Regions from separate parts of the Homo sapiens genome. Here region 2 is linked to region 1. Evidence: fine-mapped expression QTL. A gene starts in region 1. The other region holds a variant in brackets. All regions are shown on one strand. Distances are between the middles of the regions. Region 1 holds the start of EPB41L2 (erythrocyte membrane protein band 4.1 like 2). Region 2 overlaps EPB41L2 (erythrocyte membrane protein band 4.1 like 2).

Region 1 (2,920 bases):
GGGTCCGTAGGGAGGGCTCCATACGCAGACCCCTCCCCAAAATAATAGACTCTAGGCAGTAGTTCTTCTCACCAAACCTCATTTTATTTATACATATATATAAAAAAAAAAACTTGACCTCAGGGGAGGTGAGCGATCTAGAGAAGCATAACTGATGTCCCACCACAGACCTCAGGCTGCTGGGGGCAGCGTCTGCGCCTGGGGATGGCGTCCCCAGACGCCGACTTCAACCCTGTCGCGCTCCTTTAGGTTCTCCTCGCCCTTCCCCGCTGCTCACCTAAAAATGCTCCCAACCCTCGGCCCCCAGGCGCAGGAGGAGAAAAAACAAGCCATCTGTGGTGAGATGGCCTGGGTGTGGGAATTGTAAGGATCGGAGCACGAAACACGCGTCCCTCTCCGCAGCTCCCAGACGGCGCAGGCGGCAGCTGGGGGCGCGGACGCGAGCCTACAGCGGGCCCGACCCGCACCGCGCGTGGGGCTGGCGCGCCGCCCTCGCCCGGCTTCCCGCAGTCCCCACGCGCGCGGCCGGCCCGCGCTTCCCCTCCTAAAACCTTCCTCCTGAAGGGCGACGCCGCGGCCGACCCCCTCCCCGCGGGGGGGATGGAGCCGGATTTTTCCCGCTGTTGCTCCACGGGGCCCGGACGCGTGACCTGAGCCCACGGCACCCCGGGGGGGACGGCGTCCTCCCCGTGCCCCCGCCTTTCCTGGCTCCGCCGGGACGCGGCCCCGGTCCCCCGGAAGAGGGAAGAGGGGGACCGCGGGGAGCAGCGAAGCCGGGATCCGGCCCGGAGCAACAGGACCCGGACCCCCGGGCAAGAATCGGGTCGGGCAGAGACCGGGAAGGAAAGGAGAGAGGGAGCCGCAGAAAATCCCAAAGCCGGGCCCCCTCTCCCCGCCCCCCATCCCGGTGGGACCGTCCCGCCACCGCTTCCTGCCCGGAATCAGCTTCCCAGCTGCAGCCAGAGGAAAAATCTGAGCCGCCCCTGCAACCCCACACTGACCAGTCGCCCGGCCCGTGCAGCCCCGCACGCCTCCTTACCCCGACGCCGTACCTCAGGAGCTCGCTCGCCGCGGGACCCGTCCCTCTTCAGTCCCAGCCGCCGGCAGCCGCGCCTGCCTCCTCCCTCCGCTAGGTTTCAAATTGAAATTCCCTGACTGGGGCCGTCAGAGGACTCTGAGGGCCGGCCCCGCCCCCTCGCGGCGGAAGCCCCTCCCGCGACCCCGCCGGACGAGCCCCCGGCGCGGAAACCCCCGCGGGCGGTCCCGCCCCCGACGCCCAGGCCCCGCCCCTGCGCGGGCGGGGGACCTTTCCCGCGGGATTCGGCAAGCGCGGCCGCGGAGACCCGGGGGTGGAGGACGTCTTTCGCCCTCAGGGCAGCCCGGATGACAGCTAATGCGCCTGGGCAAGGCGTTCTCAACTGCGATTCCCGGCCTTAAATGTCCTCTCAACTTTTAAAAGTTATTTATTCAAAGTGCATTTGCTGACTAAACCTTCACTGAGCGCCTTCCTAGAGGTAAACACTGGAGCAGAGCCTGGAGATGCAGAATAAGGAAAACTGGGTCTCCCTCAGTCTAGAGTGGAAAAAGTGCTTTCACAGGAAGGGCATTGAAAAGGAACCATTTATTCTTCCTGTGGGAGGGACAGGAGGGGTTGGGGAAACCCCGTGGAGGAAAGGCCTCCCCAGAGTAAGTAGGATTTCTCTGGGCAGAGGCCTGGGAATCTGGATTGCAGAGCATGACCACGGGTGAAGAAGAGTCTGGAAAAAACCTAGTTTGGGGCTAAATTGTGGAAAGCCACAAGCACACACACGCTACCCTTCTGGTTCTTTTCTTTTGTACAATGAGGTCAATATGTTTCAGATTCAATATATTTCATCTTTTGAAGGTTTGCACGTCAAGCTGGTGTCAAACAACGTGTCCAGCTCACTGCCTCCAGCATCTGCCTCACACGCACCTCTTATCCCTTTTACTCCTCCCACTTTTATTGAGGTCTTTAGTGATTCCACCACAGCCAAAGTCGTCTCCCTTTCTTTCCTAAACAGAACCTTTTCCAAAATTAACAATGTCAAATGAAACCTCAGTAACAATACCTTCCAGTTAACAAAATACATTCACATATTTTATCATCATTTGATCCTCACAATCACCCTATGAAAAAGGCAGGCACGTTTGAGCTCCATTACATCAAAAAGATTTGGGAAGATAAATTATTTGCCAAGGTCCTTCTAGTAAATAATACAAATAATAATAGTTAAGGTTGATTGTGTGCTTTATGTGCTAGGCATTGTTCTAAGTCCCTTACATGTATTAATTTAATCACAATCCCATATGCTAAGTATACAAGTTAAATTTTATAAGGTGTGCTAAAACAGAGCAGAAATCTGATTAGACAGCAATTCTGGTAAAGGAGACCTGGGAATTTAATGAGAAAATACTATTATTTTCTCATAATAAGAAATATGCAGCAGATTTACAACGAAACTAATGAAACAAACTTCGGGATCTCTCATTTTCACAAGCCTTGAAACTAACTTTATAATTTTGTATTTCATTTTGTGTTTTTTAAAGAGTCCCTAAAGTCATATAAGCTTTTGGGCCCATAAAACATTGAACCACCCTGATGGAGCCCCCTTTAAAATGCTAGTGCAAAATAACATAAATATAGGCATAGTTAATAAAATATAATGCCCTTCTCATAAGAAAGGATATGCTTACTATACTCTGCGTTGAAGTACATGAATCACTCCTATATGCCACCTCTTAAGAAGAAATTTTTCCCTCCAAAAGAAAATATTGATAAGCTAAATTATAACCATAAATGGGTGACCTTGAAAATGTGGGAACCAGCAAGATTTAGCCTAAAGAGATGATTAAAGGTGATAAAAAGGTTGTCAAATGTATAAAGGCTATTGTGTGAAAG
Region 2 (2,920 bases), 66 kb before region 1:
ACATATAAATTCAATAGCACAGTTATGAATAGATAAGGAAACTTGTTTTTCCTGTTCTATTATCTGTATATCATAAGTAAATATTCTTCCCACTGGACCTCAGAGTAATAAGGGAGCCAGAGATACTCTGTCTCTTCTTTGGAGAGGGACTGGCCCCAGTATCTGAGTCTCCTTGGAGGGTTTCCTCTCACTTATACCCCTTAGTTACAAAAGAACATCCATATAAAGAGTTGGTTTCTGCCATAAAGTTTACTGTAACAGGATCTGTCCTATACCAATTGTGTATTTATCTTTAAAAGACACAGATGGAATGGCATGACCAAGAGCTTGGAATCATTCTATAAAACAAGCCCAACTGATGCCCAGACATAAACAAACACTGGAACCCCTGTGTACCTCTGCCCCAGATGACAGGAGTCAGGCCAGCACAGATCAGCTCTTGTTGGAAATCAGTGAGCTGGCCCCTCCAGGACGGGTCAGGGCTTATGTGATCTGATCTTTACTTGTTTCAAAGCCTTCTTAAGAGTTATAATATAGACTTGTTACACTTATATGATCCTGGAAAACATCCAAAATGACTAGCCTATGTCTTTCTGATGCACATCTTCTGTAGGCAATAAATGTACACACTTTCTACAAACTGTGAACTTTCAAATGAGTCCATCTAATGAATGAATGAATGAATGCCCTATAGATTAACACTTCCAAAATTAAGTTCTACTACCTTAAGAATTTGTGGCAATGCATCACCCTATTTTGCAAAGGGAAAACAAGTGAATTTAAAAGGATAATGCTGTTGCTTTAACCTATGTGAACATATTCACAGACAAGAGACTGGAAATGTTCAACCAAAATGGTAACGGTAATTATTCCTGAAATGTGGGTACCTGGAAATTTTGCTTTATTTGCATTTTTCTGTTACCAAGTTTTCTGCACTGAACATGTGTTATAATTTTCAAAAATTTAAATAAAGTCCATTAAAATGGAAAAATGTAGGGTTTTCTCCCTTTAACTCTATACTCCTTAACAGTTTTAAGGGCAGTACAAAACAGGATAACTAAGTCCCAGCAAAGTTATAATAAATTGGTATTGTGCCATGTGGTATAGATTTACCAAAAACACAGAGGTACATTCATACTATTCCTCTTTGAGCTTGGCACTATACACAAGAAATCACTGGACTCTGAGAAGCTTTCAGACACTGTTACATTAGAGGACTTTTCTTTAAGTTAGATTTGAACTGGATTTAAAAGAATGAAAGGAATTTCCTGGATTTTATCACAGCAATTTCCCAGGAGATTTTTCCCTCAGTTCTTCATACAAGGATTAAAGCCACTTAGCAAATTAGAGAGTGTACTTGCCACTTAAAACGCTATTAAGATCATGTAAATTAAGAGGTCTTTAAAAAGCAATGCACA[T/A]CAACAAAAGACTTAAGAGTTCCTGCTCAGAAGTTGTTTTAACAGTTTCCTATGAAGGTAGTCAAAAAGCATCAACCATCTGAGGTCACATCTAAGTGCAGGGGGGATCTACTTTCAGACCACACAGAGCTACGAAGGGATCAGGGAACACATATCTACATTAGATCAAGAAAGAGCCTTTCTTTGTTATATGACAACTGTTACTGTCAAATTTTCTCTACGACTTCATTAAAATATCAAGCACAATACACGCACAATTTAACACAGCACAAGGCGGACAGGGACGTGTTTTTCAGGACTGCAAAATGGCATCTGCAGAATGTCTCAAAGGAGTGACAAAGGCACTTCTTTAGCCCTAACAAAGAGAACAATGTTTCCAGTAGGACACTACAGGACTATTGCATTTCAGGGGGGAAAAGGCAGTGAAAATTAACACAAAACAGAGCTAAACATGGAGAATGACAGTCTGTAGGGAAGAATTAAAAGAAACTATTGGACACAAGTTTCACTCATTATTGTATATAAGAGCACCTAATGTTTTAAAAATCGAGTTATTGCAACTGTTAAGTTTGCAAATAAAATTATAACTAAAAAAAATCACAAAATAACCTTACTTATCAACTGAATTAATTTGATTCATAAGCACTGTATTTCTATAATTCCTGTTAAAAGGTAGTTTATAAACAAGCAATAACAGTATTATGATAAGCAATCTATGTGTATCATTTCATTTAATTTCTCACGACCACTCTATGAGAAATGTACTACCAATGACTCCATTTTATAAGTAAGGAAATTGAGTCTTAGAGATATAACATAGCTCAGCATCAGACAGATCTGAGTTTCAATTCCAACTCCTTCACTTACTAGCTATGAGACTTTGACTTTCTTTCCAAGATCTTTTGAATTCCAAGACTATGAAAATCAAATAATTTTCACATGGATTAAGGACAAATTCTTTTCAAAAATGGGACAAGAACTTTCCTATAACACCATACAAAAATGGAGCTAGTTGCTTAATGAATTGGGGGTGTAGGGGAAATTGGGATACACCCACCCAAGATCAACCAAGTAACACTTGCAAAACACTGTTAAAAGAGTAGCTTAAGAATGCCTTAGGAAAAAAACGAAGAGAAGGAATGATGAGAGTTAGGATTAATTACAAAATAAATAGCATATCTGAATAGACTGGATGGGGAAAGATGATAATCAGGATACTAAACTGATTATTCCTCACTTTATCTGAGGTGTATGTGCTTAGTTATCTTCAGTGGACAGTACTCTGAAAAACTATTTGATGATTTCTATATTGTGAAAAAACAACTTCAGCCATAGTTACAAACAGTAGACTCTGATTACAGTAAATAAAACCAGTAAATAAGTTAGCAACAGGTAAATTTTTCTCCCTATGACTATTTGTTTCATAAATTGTCAATCCTACTTTGAATCCCAGGACACTGCTACCCAACTAATCTTCCTGAACTCCAGTTCTGATCATATCA

What was found. PIP is the estimated chance that this variant, and not a neighbour inherited with it, causes the effect.
Region 2: its variant is fine-mapped to the expression of EPB41L2 in blood mononuclear cells (TOPMed, PIP 0.92).

What each region holds. Positions count from the first base shown.
Region 1 is chr6:131,062,103-131,065,022 of GRCh38, forward strand. It overlaps EPB41L2 (erythrocyte membrane protein band 4.1 like 2), which reads right to left and starts at 1,143. Exons shown (of 20, transcript NM_001431.4): 1 at 1,053-1,143. LOC105378004 (a long non-coding RNA gene) reads left to right here and starts at 1,301. Exons shown (of 3, transcript XR_942993.3): 1 at 1,301-1,514. RefSeq lists silencers at 600-699, 1,040-1,379.
Region 2 is chr6:130,995,927-130,998,846 of GRCh38, forward strand. The region is part of intron 1 of EPB41L2 (erythrocyte membrane protein band 4.1 like 2); the gene reads right to left. Among named protein-coding and RNA genes, the nearest start is that of EPB41L2, 66 kb to the right of the region's middle. The variant T/A (reference allele first, on the strand shown) is at 1,419.